Linked DNA regions of Homo sapiens. The protein of the gene in region 1 interacts with the protein of each later gene in a pairwise test. Each region holds a gene or a part of one and is shown on either strand. Other genes may lie near its edges. The genes, in order: MYT1L and TNIK.

Region 1 (8,098 bases):
AAATTGCATAATCACTTATTTCTTTTCCCTAATCTATTAAACATTGACACAGAAAGCAGACAGAAAACATCAGACAGTGAAATAATTGGGTATATTCAAGAGTAAGGTACAAAATAGAAACATTTTCAAGAGAGTAAAAAATAAATAAATAAATTAGGTGAAAAACATAACAGGGACAGTGAAAACAGCATATTAAAGAAGTCTCATTCTCTGAAACTATCCACATAGTCCTAAGGTCATGCTTTGACAGCTTTTATAACCCCGAAGAAGACTAGGTACTCATATTCCTTTAATAATTTTTGTACACCACTCATATGTGGTCACAAATCATTGGGCCTTTACCTTGATCTCAGCTTCTAACACAAATTTGTGAAATTGGCATAAGTTCTGCTGTTGGATGCAAGTTTAACTCAAGAGAAGTTGAAATTTGTGTGTCATGCATACTTTCTACCTTACTGTGACACCAGATAGTCCTGGTGCATCTTTTCAAAGATGAATTTTATTAATAATTACATGTATTTGGATAAAATTTTCCAGTTGAAAAGTAATAATGTTTACAATTTTCCAACCCACAACTATACATATATACAAGTAATTTTTAACATATTGATATGTTTGAATATTTGGAAATAGAGTAAAATATGTGTATAATGGCAGATGGAAAGTCTTTACTAAATAAAAATGTTCAAGTATAGATATCTTTGCTGCCACCATCTTCAAAACATCCAAATGTGACCATGAAGGCTTCTCCTACTTCTACCTCAACTAGCACAATCATTAAGGTGATGAAAGTGAGCCATTTTCACATTGCCAATAAACTAGGAGGAAGTCAGTCACTGTTGAATGCAATCGCTATCAGCTGCGGACAGCTCCTGGTGCTGAAAGGGAAGGCAGAGAAGCCTGCTCACAATAGCTCACTCCACCAGCCTTTGAAAAATCACAGCAAAACTGAATGAGGTGGCAAGTGCTCAGCCTGAATAGCACTGTCTACAGAACAATGGCAGCCAACTCTAAATCCTACTATAATCACATTAATGAGATTAATCAGTGAATTAGCAGCAGTCAAATGTCAGGGAGGCAAGGAAGAATCCAACCAAGATTGGTAATTAACTTTTTGTGGGTGGGGGTGGGGAGGAGAGAAAAATCAACTGTGCTATCTCATAGGTTTTTTTAGATGTTGATAATTTTGATTCACGAATCTGAAGACTATATGTACAGATCAAAAGACAACAACATAATCCTTCATATTATAATATAGATCCAGATCTCATATTACTGATTCTTATAGTCCTCTGAGAAAGCTGATGTCACTTTAAATAATCTTCATAATCTATCAGAATTTTATTGTTTTAAATTCTTTAAATGCACAATTAATATTTAAAATAAACTTATTTCTCTGAAAATCAAGCTAAAATATAAAGAAATATGGCTGATTAAAAGCAGAAGGATTATATAACAACTGTTATTGTTTATGAAAAGTGTATGATAGTATGGTAAGAGTTTTCAAAGTGCAATCAAGTAAAGTACCATCACACACACACATCAGTAGTGGTCTATGTTAGTTAATAAAGAAAATTTATCACTCAAGTATAACTTTAAGGAGACTTTTAAGCAATTAACTTACTGCATTTGAGGTGATAGAATCATACATGTTCTTTTAGGTCAATCAGAAAAAACAAACTTCCTTTTTTTCTGGAATGTTTCTCTTAGTAGCATTTATAACTTACAATCAACACTTTGGATTCAAAGTTCTTGAGAGGTGAAAACTTATAGGAATGCAATGCTGTTTTTTTTTTTGAAAAGGAATATTTTATAAAACTCTTTTCTTTTAAAAATAATTACATTTTTATCTGTATGGGAGACATGACTTTATTATTTTTAAAGCTACATGACACTAAATGAAGATGAACAATTAGAAAGACCCTCATATGCCAGTAAGGGTGGTTTTGGGATGCTTTGGTCTATGACGTTAATTTTGTTTAGTAGAAAATATAAACATTTGAACAAAAAGGCTCTTATATAAAATAGTTTTACTCTAAGTAACTTAGAAATTATTTAGCTTATATAGCTTTGATGGTACAAGAAATTGTCATGGTTAATACTAAATTCAAAATCTGTTCTCTATATTTTATATAGCTAACTTTCATATAAATATTTACATATATATTTTTGCTTTATTCAGATCTATCTTAAAACTAAAGTGTAGAGTTTAATCTTTTAGTTTATTAATTTAGGTGTTACAAAAAGACATATTTCTGTTATAAATAACATTTTCTTTCATTATTATGAACTTCAAACATTTAAGTTAAATTTAAAAATCTTTATTTGAGTTTCTCCACTTAAACAATATAAATCAACTTTCTTCTTACCATCAGGTAAATTCATCCAAAATAGCTAACATTTTAATTGCCTTTGCATAAAATGATGTGCTTCATTTGTAATGTAAAGTAATCCAGTAAAGTCTCTGGGAAGTTTTTGTTTCAGTATCCTCTTATCCTCCAAACACCATACATGCACCCCGTTTTGTTTTTGTTTCTTTTTTTCTTAATAAACAACATCACAGTTAAGTCATGCAACCTAATACCCATTTTAGTTTAAAGACAGATTTTTTTGTGGATTACAAAGCCTCCAGTCCAGGAACATTTCAGCTACCAGCCATGCTGTAAAAATAACTTTAAAAAGGAGCAGACAATGGAATAGCAGCCTCAGCCCTTGAGCTACGGTAAAACACATCCTGCTCACTAAGTTCCCCGAAAAATTAACCTAACGAACATCACGTACCTCACAATGACCACAACCGCTCACAAGCGAAAGACAAGTTCAATTTTGGTAACTGTGCTGGCTCAAAATACACAGACAGGGAAGAAAACCCTGTTCCACCACAAGTTTGAAAGGATGATGAGACACATGCATGCCACCAAGACGCAGAAAAGGTGGCTTTTTGTCTTCAGTGAGTATGGATATCATAACCCATAGTCCAGGGAATGAAAAAATTAAAATGCACCCACCAACAATGAGCAAAAAACCCGGGGTGCTTCAACAAGACTGCAGGGAAAAGCTCTCTCACTGTTTAGTGTGCAGTAGCTTAGGGAAAAAAAAAATGTCGCCCGGGCAGGAATGACAAATGCAGCGCGATAGGCTCGCAGGCCTCAGGGATCTGTTTGACTTCCACACACCCCCATGCACACGCTCCCACTCATCCTCTCCTAGGCTTTTTTTTTTTTCCACATTTTTTTTTCACAAGCTCCAAATCCCCGGCATATGACCTTCTGTTAAATAGATAAAAAAAAAAATTGCTTATCAGTCATGCAAATGAGGCTGAATTCATTTTCCACAACAGATGGCCTCATAGATAATGATGATGGAAGAGAGAAAATTGAATGTCTCTCACAAGGTGGCCATGGCAACCGAGAGCAGAATAATATCAATAATAAACTCACTGCATAATAAGGTTGTCAGTCCTACAAATCAAAGTCTCCAGCTAAATCAGGTATACCACCCCAGCTAGTTACCAGGTAAATAGTACACACACACACACACACACACACACACACACACACTTCCACAGAGTGGCTTGAAATCTTTCATGGTCACTGTAAAATGTGTACGTGTGTGTGTCTGTTGGTGGCAAGAAGGGGTTGGGGGAGAGAATAGTTGGATAATGAAATGACAATGTGACTTTTTTCTTTTCCTTTCCTTTCATTATGTTTTCTGCAATAGACTCGGTTTCATGCAGGACCTTCTAACTAGCCATATTGAAATCGGGATGCGGTGCTGAAGGCTTTCTCTCCTCCCTCTGCCTCCGCGCTCTCGCTCTGATGTGCTGCATTGATGCAATAGCAGCTCGCCTCAGGCTTCCACCTTGGCTCCCAGGGGGACATCCTGCAAAATGAATCAGCAGCCATCCTGAGCAGGCTGATTAAAATGAAAATGGCAAGGCACATGTCTGGGCGGAACTGGAGCTCAGCTTTGCTGCTTGTCTGGCAAGCATGCTCAATATAGCTCTTGCTAATAATGGCTTACTGCCTTTCATTTTTTAAAAAGGTATCACCCTTTTCCCCCTTCACTGACTGGTGTTGTCTGTGTGTGTGTGTGTGGTGTGTGTGTGTGTGTGCACGTATGTGTGCGTGCATGTCGCGGGGGGAAACGAGAATGGATGGTTCTATTCTTCTAATTTTCTGCTGCTCACATGCAGACTGCCTGCCTGACAGCACCATTATTTTAACACTGAACTTACTTCAGCTTTTCTTTTGGGACAGGGTGGGGGGGCGGTTGATAAGTCTTGGGGCAGAAGGGCTAGTTTTAAAATCAAGCTGCCTAAAAGGCCCAGACAAGATTTTTACACTCCAGATTCAATAATTTCTAACCAAATCTGAAGCAACAGACCTCGAGAGAACTCCGATGCTCTGCTTCACAGGCTCACAGTTGGACATGCTGAAACACAGCCTATGAAGAAACCTATTTCTGTTTCGAGCATTTGCAACCAGCCTGTTACTGTATCCTAGATATTATGCAACACAGAGAATTAAAACAGAGAAAGCTACTAGCTAATAAAATAATCGAACACAATTGAAAAAATAAATCTTGGATATTTTGTTGTTTAAAATTCTCAGGCATAGCTTCAAGATTGCCCTCAAATAAGCTTTACTTTGCAGCACCTCTGCCGAGTATTCCAGGGTTTTTCAAGGCATTCTGGAAATTAGACCATTATCACCTCTCAAAAAAATGGTTGAAAAATTAGAACGAATAATTTTTCTAAACTCATTTTACTCTACTTCTCCTATACATCTTATTCTATGTTATAAACAGTCTTTAAATTTTGCTAAATTGTCAGTTTTGCTTTCCTTTGGTAACAGATGCTTGATTTTTGTATAAAACTATCTATCTACTTATTTTTGTCTTTGTAATTCCTGTTTCTGAGACGTGATTTTTTTTTCTTCTGAGCTCTAGCCCTGTTGCTGCAGTGTGAATCAGAAATCAATAGCGCTGCCCTAATGGAGACTCCACTCGGCACGCGGCAAGGCAGCTGCAGTCTCCTCTCTCTCTTTCTCTCTCTCTCTTGCACACACACACACACACACACACACGGAACTAATGACGTCTGTGCAGCTTTTTCAGCTGATTGGGCACCACATCGGATGTTCTGTGGAGCAAAGAATAGGAGTCATTTACAGTCGGCGGAAAAAAAATGGGAGCATATATCCTTCTGTGTGTAAGACACTGATCCTGAGCTCCCCAGGCAAGCAGCATGTGGGTAAGGACGGTTCTTCGTGTTGTGGTCACCACGGGGTAAAGAGCGCCTCCAAAATGATTATAGAACTGGAACTGCAGTACAGTGGGAGTATTTGTCCATTTTGTAAAGGACAAAGCATTCCTCTAAAAAAAAAGTGAGCACAATAAAATTCCCACGCAAATGCGAGTGTTTAGGTCAAATCGTGACCTCCTGGGTATTATTTAGGCGTTTACATATACATTATATTATTACTTCCAAGGAATTCCAAATGTACTTAAAAAAATAAAGTTCAAATTAAATGAATATATATGTATGTACACACACATATATACACACATATTCATGTAATCATTCCCTATGAGTTTATCATAGTTGTGTTAATAATAAATTCTTAGTTAAAATTCACCCCCACATACCTTACCTTACATTAAGAAGAAAGAAATCTGTAAATAATACTGACACAATATTTTAAATCACAGATTTATACATGTATATGTTTTTCTTACACATTTGTGCATGTCTATGAAAACAGAATGTATATTTGATATGGGGCACCTGCACACACACACGCAGGCACAATATTCTTTCAACAGCTTTGGTTACCTTAAGCTGTAGGTGTAACTCACTGCAATGACAGGCTGCTGTGTTGATAAGCATAGTATCTAATGTTTTACCCTTAAGGTAAGGCATCCCTGGACCCAGCAGCATTAAAGAACACGTCTTCCCTTACCACACTGTCACTGCATTTCATTCAACCTCATCGTGTTGACAACAACTGCCCCAGCCTGAATCGGGCTCCAGTGAAGCATTTGTATTCTTTCCACCCATTCTCTGCATGACTTTTAGAGCTGAGATACCAGCCCTCAAATGGCTCAAGAGAAGAGGAAAAATGAATGAATCATGAAGCCACAGAGCCACAGCAGAGCAACACTGCAGTCTGCATTTTGCAGTTACATTGTAGCTCACTTGATACAGTATGATTTCTTCAAAAATGATATCGAGTACTCTGCAGTAAGGTACCATAAAATCCTTTATGATGTAGAAGAACTGGGGAATACTCAAATGACCATTTAGATTAAAAATCTGTAGTTTGCGATTAAACCGTATAACCAAATGTTTTGTCTCTAAGTATCTGTCACCTGCCTCCTTAAATTATTTCTAATATATTTTGTACTTCATGTATTAGTTTATTCCACATGTTAAAGCCCTTGGTATTAGGAAATACATATGTCATTAATTTTGTTTATTTATGTATGTATTTATTTATTTGTAAGAGAAAAGAAATTGGAACATATTGCCACTTCTAATGGGTATGTCCTCCAATTTAGTACAAAGAAAAAAAGCCCATATAATTTTTTGTGTGGAAATACACACAAGTTATAACCTAGGATGTATTTCCAACTGTAGGATACATATGCTGATCACTTTAACAAACGATAGATTGATCTCTCATAGTATAGAAAGTTCAATCTCTTTCCTTTCTGTTCTCTGGACTCTGGTCTCATCATGAGACCAGAAACAAAAAGGAGCCGTGACGTTTCTTCAGGTGCCATGTTGCACACCAGGTGAGGAGCCGGGAACTAGACCTTCATGGAAAGCATGACGATGACTTCATGACCTTTTCTTCAGAATTATGTCTGCACCAGTGATGGAGAGCTGTGACATCTAAAGGGAGTCTGAGATTAATTTAGGTCTGGAGCAAACAGCATAGAATTGCTATAGTTGGGTAGTAAATTGGTAAAACCTGGAATCCAGATATTACTATATCAGAGTGTACACTATGCAAAATCAGGCACTAACATAGCCCTCCGCCACTGTATTGGGGAACAACTTTCCAAGTTAGCTATATATCAGAGAGGGGGTGGTTTATTAATTTATCAATGATAAGGATGGGGAACCCATTTTCATTACAGGGAATTAGCTTCAACTAATCAAAACATCTATAGAGTGACTCAATAGCAAATAGATAAAAGAAATAAGGTGTTGGTGGTTAATTTGCTAAATAGAATAATGAGAAAGAAATTTAGGAGACATATCATGAAGAAGAGCTGAGGTATCAAGAATAGTTGTGGTCAGATAGAATTTGGTTGTGTAATCTCGGTGAAATGACTGGACCACAAGGGGTAGACCATGAACCTCAGAGCTCATGCGTTATTTTTGCAGCTATCCCAGGCTGACCATTCTATTCAGTATAAACCCATATTAGGGGAGTCTGGAGCAGGTAGAGTTGAAAACATCTGTATTCAGATCACTTGGCCTGATTTTATAGAACTGGTTATTTATTGGCAAAATATATAGATATAAATATGAAATATAATTCTGAGATCTAAAAGAGCATTGAGAATTTAAGATGTAGGTAAGGGGTGCCCAACCCCAGTCCATGTCTCTTAGGGACTGGGCCGCACCACAGGAGGTGAATGGTGGGGAAGTGAGCATTATTGCCTGAGCTCCGACAAGTCAGTGGCGACATTAGACTCTCATGAGAGTGTGATCCCTATAGTGAACTGTGTGTGTGAGGGATCTAGGTTGTGTGCTCCTTATGAAAATCTAATGCCTGATGATCTGAGGTGAAACACCTCCCCACCCCGACACGTTCTGTGGAAAAATTGTCTTCCATGAATGAAACCAGTCCCTGATGCCAAAAAGGTTGGGTACTGCTGGTTTAGATTATTATAACCAGCAAACTAAGATAATCTATAGAAGGTATTTATTCTACTCAAAGTCTATAATTTTATAAAATGTCTGCAATTTTGTGAAAGTAAATACCTTTCATTTCACCCTCAGTGGCCCAATAAATTCAAAAATACGCATATTGCAACAAAACTTTCCACATTACCTGCACACCCTTGAGACTCAGTCTCTGAA
Region 2 (7,282 bases), on another chromosome or scaffold:
CCAAGGAGGACACCATAAGATTGAACCCTGGTTCAAATTCTGCTGCTGCCCCAGCTCTATGTGGAAATGTTAGTGCCTGCCCTACCTCTTTCACAGACATCTTCCAAAGATCAAAAGAGAACATGTACGTGAAAGTGTTCTATTTGGTAGGGGGAATTCAACCTTGAGGAGGATGAAATGGTTTTGATTTCATAGGATGGAAAGAAAATCTTGAATTAAATCAGATTAGATCTTTGTGGTTTTCTCCTTATATGTTTAGAGGTCTTGGATGGTGGTTTTATTTTTAAATAAAAACCTAACAGTAAAACTAAAGTGAAATAACCTTTAGTTAAAGATATTTATCCAAAAAAGATGTGCTTATTATGTTGAATACAGATGTGTTTATGATGTTAAAGGACAAGAATAGAAGAAATGGACATGACTGACATTGCAGCTTATTCAGCAAAACTCAAATTTAGAATATTGTGACATAAAACCCTGATATTGAGTTTACTGTTCCCTCATCTCCTTCTGACATCATGTTTTCATGGTGCCATTCAAGCCCAAGATTCATTTTTTAAAGTAAGCCTTCAAGGTACATTGCTCACAAACGTAATATCCTCATGAAGTCCCTAAATAAGGATGTAAATGTAATTATTCTTTTAAGGAAACTATCGTGGGAAGGAAATATCTTCAATTCCAGCATAAAATCATCCCTGAATTGAGGATTTTAAAGCTTTTGGAGCCAACACCAATTCACTTGCATCACCAGGCCAGAGTAGAAGGGCTCAAAGCTCTCCTCCCCAAGAGAAAGCCCCTTGGTTTGACTCTGTTCAGGATAAAGTACTGCTGTATAGGCTTCCTTACTTAGTTTATTGCCAATTATGTCAGCTTTTCATATTGATCAAGTAGTCAATATAGGAGGTTGCTTTTACTGAAAGGGAGAGGTAAGCTCTGTCACCACAGTGATCTTACAGATTTTAAGGTGCCACATGTGGTCCAAAATGTAATTTTCTCACTACAATTCTTGCAGTCTGATAATTAATGAAGTCCTACGAATGCACAATGACTAGTGAGTAACCAATACCAGAAGAAGCTGGAGACAGGCACGCACTGACTAGAGCACTAGAATGTGAACACCTGAATACCTTGAAGAATCTGTGATCGTTTTACAGCCCAAGCACAGTATTGTTAGCATTGTTATTCCTGCAGTATTTATCTGCTCTTCTTAATCTTCTTGCTTATTGATTAGTATGGCATGGGGAGCAGCACCAAAGCCTCCTTCACCCCCTTTGTGGACCCCAGAGTATACCAGACGTCTCCCACTGATGAAGATGAAGAGGATGAGGAATCATCAGCCGCAGGTAAGCAAGAAGGGCCCTGTGTTTAAAAAACAGCTTCGTCTTCCTTTCTGGTATGACCTGATAAGGAAATTAATCCTCAGTTCAGTAGTTAAGCTGATTACTGCTTAGGTCCTATCTTAAAAGGAAGACTTTTTAAAATTATTATTTCTGTAGGACTCCTAAAACAAATGTATTACTTTCCATTTTTTTTCCCATCTCTTCTATTTCGTTTCTGGTAGACCCAGGGGTACATAGGGACCCTAGGAAAAGCTGTTCCTCAGTGATCTCTGAACATAACTAAATGTTTCCCCAAAACAATTTCTGGGTACAATGTTTTACACACATTAGGCACTTAATAAGTGTATGGTACATTGTGTTGAGTTCTAGGTGTGTGCTTCCCACCACAAAGATCAGGCTGATTTAAAGGAGTCTTGCTTTCTAATCTTCTTCAAGTAATTAATCATCAAAGTCAGCTTAGGACAGTTTTTCAACTGATAAACTGCAATTTTAAAAAGTAGATCTTTTTTGCCTATATACAAGAGTGGGGATGGTGTATTTAATTTGGGACTTTCTAGACTCTGCAAGTAGTGTCTATAAGCCTGTTTTTCTAATGAATAAAAGATTCCTTTGATGAATGACTTAGACTTTATTCTACTAAAACAAAAAAAAAGTGTAAAATAAGGAGAGTTTCAGAGTTTCCTTGCCTTTACTATAATTCAAACCAAACAAGGAGAAATCATAGTGTTTTGAAGCCCCATCTCCATAAGTTATCTTTTAAGATGTCACTGACTTCTCTGATTCTTTTTCTCAAAGCTCTGTTTACTAGCGAACTTCTTAGGCAAGAACAGGCCAAACTCAATGAAGCAAGAAAGATTTCGGTGGTAAATGTAAACCCAACCAACATTCGGCCTCATAGCGACACACCAGAAATCAGAAAATACAAGAAACGATTCAACTCAGAAATACTTTGTGCAGCTCTGTGGGGTATGTTGGTGCTTTTTTTTTTTTTTTTTTTAAATAACCACTCATTAATGAACTGACCCTCAAACATTAAAAGCCTGTGGATCTTGTCATCAAAAGAACACTGGTTGAATCCTGGGTATTAGAGACCTAACTTGGGACTATCTTGACCTCAGGAGAAACCAAAAGGAGTTTTATATGTAGAAATAGCTGATACGCTACTAGCCAGGAAGACGAGATTAGATTCAGAGCAACCTTGTCACACAATAGTGATAGGCTAAAGCCAACAAGAGAACTAGCTACCACTGAATACATTGAGTGGGCAAAGCAAAGCCTATAATGTGATCAATCAGAGGCGATTTGTGTCTGGCACTTTGTGATATACCCCACGTTCATTCTCCATGATCCATACCACATCCTGCAAGGGGAATATGAGCATAAATAATGGCATAAACCTTTATTTCAAGCTGAAAAATCAGCCCAGAGTATTTTTGTGAATTACTAAAGGTCATAACCCTAGCAATAACAAGATAAAACTTGAAAAGAACAACAAATAATTTAATGAACTTTCCCTTTTAGTTTAAAACATCAATCTGCATTTTCTCGTGAAAAAGATCTGCAGGTTTTAGCTGACCTCAAACTCAGGAGAGGCATGATGAGATTCTATCAAAGTCTTGGTCTGTGTTACTATAAACATCTCATACAGATTAAGGAAGGACATGTCCCCTGTGTACCCACTGAAAATACTAGGCTTGGATTGGGGAACCATAATTTTAAAAGGCTGAAAGCATTTGAGATGTTAGCGGGGAAGAGTGTGAAGCCTAGGAACCATTTCATGATAGAGGCTCTGTCCTCTGGAGAAGAGACAGAAGAGAACAAGATAGCCACATTTAATACTGAAAGGATTAATATATGGACAAAAAAGCAGACATTTGTGTTGATCAGAAGATAGAAGTACAAGACGTAAGAGAAGTTAGAGAGTTACATGTTCATGAATAAAGTACACTGCACAATGAGCCTCTCAATGTGTGTGTGTGTTGAGGGGTGGATGATACATTTCCCTAGCCATAAATTTTTAGGATTACAACTACCCAGACAAAGCCACTTATGTGCCTGTGCTTCTGTAATAGGGATTACTGCATGGGTGTTGGGCTGCACTAGATTTAGAGACCTGAGAAGTCCCTTAAAGTGAGTATGTCTGTGACTCTCCAGCTATTAACACTTCTCTTGAATGGGTTTATCATTTCCCTAAAAAAGAGCAAAAACTTGAGGGTATGGGGCATAAGATAGTTACATTTTGATTCAAGAAGGAGGAAGGGCCTTTCTTCCATTGGAGTATGGAAATGGAAATTCCACTGTATATTGAAGGTGGGTAGGCTAGAGACCACTGCATAGGGGTGGGGGTGAATCTTGGGGAAGAAGAGAAGTGATTTATAGGGAGAGCCAAGAAAGAAGTGGTTTTTCCAGGCAGGGAATAAAGGCAAATTATGCTAGCTTCACATCTGTGCCTAAGGCTCCTATTGACAAGGACTCTCTGCATTAGGTAGTAAATAACTAGATGTATGAATGCTGCTAACTTTATAAAAGAAAACTGTAATTTCATTACCAGAAGTACAATGATTTAATTATTATGTCAGAGCTTCTACATTCATTAGTTTATATTTACCTACTTGCCCATTAGTGTATATTTACAAGTCACAGTTTCTTAAATTTTATAGGGACTCTCGATGCAGAAGATTAAAGTTCATGAAAAGTCAGTCTTAGGGTGCTTCTTAAATTTACAGGTGTAAACCTTCTGGTGGGGACTGAAAATGGCCTGATGCTTTTGGACCGAAGTGGGCAAGGCAAAGTCTATAATCTGATCAACCGGAGGCGATTTCAGCAGATGGATGTGCTAGAGGGACTGAATGTCCTTGTGACAATTTCAGGTATGTTACTAAGATGATGAGTCCCCCAGGTCCATACAGCGGGAAAGGGATCCACCTCATTTCTGCAGAAACAGTTAGTTCTGCCCTTCCCAGCTAACAAACAACACAATAAAGTATAGCAGTATAGCCAGAGTGAGATTGCCCACATTTTGTAACACTGGGAATTCTGACCTCCAAAAAGAAGTCTCTCACCTCTGCATTAAATCTGAATTAGGCAGAGACATACCACAAAGGCTATATATTTATAGCTCTTTACCTCTGTCAGGACTCAGCAAGGATCTTCGGATGTTTTTAAGGTTTCTGCACTCCAGTTATTACCACATACAGACAGAATATCAAAATGCAGGCTTCCTAGAGGGACATTTAGTAAGCAGAAATTTCTTGGTCTCTTCCCTCAAAAATTCTCTTGCTTATAGCCCACTGATGTTTTGGCAGGTGCAGCTGGCACACTGGGTGATCAAGTCTACAAAAAGATTTGAGTGTGGGAATCATTACTGCTATGCTCTGTAGCTTTCTGATTCCCAAAAAGAGCCTTATATAGGAAAAAAAAAAAAAGATGGAGACTAAAGTGAAGGCCTTGTAACAAGTTAAAAATGCAACCTAAAAGAGGGTAGTTTTGTTGAAAGTTTTTTTTCTTTTTGGTATTTGAAGGAGTTTAACGAGTAACACCCGTCACTTCCCCTCTCATTCCATCTAGTATGGAACCAACTTGCTACTGCACTTTATAATCACCTAGGGAGATGTGAAAATCTAGGCTGCACCCCCAGACCAGAGTCAGAATCTCTGGGGGTGGGGTTTAGGCATCAGGAGCGTTCATAGTTTCTGATGTGTTTCCATTGTACAGCCAAGTTTGAGAACATGGATTTATGCTCAGCCATTGTTTCACGAAGAGACAACACAGGGATGCTGGTTTGAACTTTCCTCAAAGTTCAGCTGTACTTCCATTTTGACAAAATGCTTTTGCTTGTCACTAAACTTCCTCTTTCTTTTACCTTTCCACTGAATGCTCAGTTTCATCTCTTTTTATTCTCCCCAAATAAGGTTAACCAGGTAAATTCCTTTTGTATTGCCATTTGAGTTTAATCCCATGTAGTCTTTTGTTCTGGTTAATTGCTGTCCTGATTGCTATACTACCAAATCAAAATGAAAACTGCATATCTGCCAAAAGTGGGAATGCAACCAGAAAATTCACATTCAGACTTCATTATGTTGTTAGTGGCACATCTTCATTCTTAACAGTGTAAGAGTTTCCTTTTCTCATGAGGCACAGATAGGGAAAGGAGAAAATGAAAATAGGAGCAAAAGATTCTTGAACTAACCTTGGATTCATATTGGCATAGAAAGGAGGAAACACTGGCTCTCGTGTCCATCCTAGCTACTGTGATCAATGTGGATTCTAGGCCTTTGGTTACAAAATTGAATACTGACCACACAATGATTCCCTTAGTTTAGGTGATGAATGTGCTCTCCTGTCAAATGCATGTGTAATGCTTTACTAAGTTCTCTTCTGCTGGTATATATTCATCTATAAAATATAAAACATTTTTTTTGGGAGAGGCCGAGGCGGGCGGATCATTTGAGGTCAGGAATTCCAGACCAGCCTGGCCAACATGGTGAAACCCCATCTCTACTAAAAATATAAAAATTAGCTGAGCATGCTGGGAGCGGCACCTGTAATCCTAGCTACTTGGGAGGCTGAGGCAGGAGAATCGCTTGAACCCAGGAAGCAGAGGTTGCAGTGAGCCGAGATCATGCCACTGGACTCCGGCCTTGGCGACAAAAGTGAAACTCATGTCTCAAAAAAAAATAAATAAATAAATAAATAAAACATTTTTAAAGCCTAAGATAAAGAAAAATAAGTATCCAAAAAATAAAACCCATAGAGCTAAATTTATCATTAGTTAGGAAGAGTCATCCCAATGGACATTTTATCTGGTGCAAATCATCAAATGGAGTATATCAAGTTTTGCTACTTGTGTACTCTTCAATATTGTCTAAATATTTTATCATCCTATGAATTCTTTATTCCAAGATCACTTTACCAAACGGAAATTTAAGTTTTCAAGTTTGCATCCTTTTTTTCCTATTTTTGTTCAGTATTCCTTTCAGTGACTTCAGCACCATAAACCTGCCCAGTATAATTTTCTGAACCCATATTATCCTCTTGTTTGTTATTAGGTTATACGGTGAAGGAAAGGCAGGTGCCAAAATGCCCAGTTGCCAACACTTCTTCATGTGATTGATCTAGAATGTTCTGGAACTCTGATCACTCTGTTGAAGAGTTAGCTCTTACTAAGTTCAGCAGACACTGCTTTGCATTGGGAAGAGAGAGTAAGAGCACATGCTCAAATAAGAAACCACCTGAAGATAAAAGACATTGTAATTCTGTGATGTGTCTAAAACACGTAGAGCTATTTTAACCATAAGTTCTGGCAGAAACACCATTTTAATGACAAAGTGCTGGGGACACTGGTTATTATGCCTTCATACACACACACACACACGTAAATAAAATAAATTAGAAATAAATGGAGGTGGGGAAGGAAAAAGTGAGAGCTGTCACAGCAATTTGAAATTAAACCTCTATTATTTCAACAGGAAAGAAGAATAAGCTACGAGTTTACTATCTTTCATGGTTAAGAAACAGAATACTACATAATGACCCAGAAGTAGAAAAGAAACAAGGCTGGATCACTGTTGGGGACTTGGAAGGCTGTATACATTATAAAGTTGGTAAGTCTCAAGACATGGAATTATAAGTTTGGTCTGTTTACTCAATCAGACTTACTTAGTTAGGTTTCACCTAGTTTTTTCTATCAGATTGATGATGCATGTGTGACCAGCTTCAGATGTTGCTGGAACCTTCAGCATTATTTATATTTTTTAAAAGCCAGATTGATGAAATTGAAAGAGTGCATTCAGAATAAAGTCCTAGGCTCCAGTTTGAACATTTATATCTACTTTCTTCCAAAGACTCATTAAAATGACAAGAAAAGAATAAAAATGCCATAAGCCTATGAGGACAGTGGGACCAAGAGAAGAGAAGAAATGTCGGTAAAATCGAAAGAGTAG

What was found.
Region 2: the proteins of MYT1L (region 1) and TNIK interact in a two-hybrid assay, tested with the Homo sapiens proteins (2 studies listed by IntAct).

Annotation. Positions count from the first base shown.
Region 1 is NC_000002.12:2,328,186-2,336,283, forward strand, and holds the start of MYT1L (myelin transcription factor 1-like protein), read right to left. Parts: upstream 3,091-8,098; 5' UTR 2,782-3,090; intron 1-2,781. UniProt on the Homo sapiens protein: Transcription factor that plays a key role in neuronal differentiation by specifically repressing expression of non-neuronal genes during neuron differentiation.
Region 2 is NC_000003.12:171,079,179-171,086,460, reverse strand, and holds part of TNIK (TRAF2 and NCK-interacting protein kinase), read left to right. Parts: intron 1-1,231; coding exon 1,232-1,343; intron 1,344-2,135; coding exon 2,136-2,306; intron 2,307-4,066; coding exon 4,067-4,210; intron 4,211-6,808; coding exon 6,809-6,943; intron 6,944-7,282. UniProt on the Homo sapiens protein: Serine/threonine kinase that acts as an essential activator of the Wnt signaling pathway. Recruited to promoters of Wnt target genes and required to activate their expression. May act by phosphorylating TCF4/TCF7L2.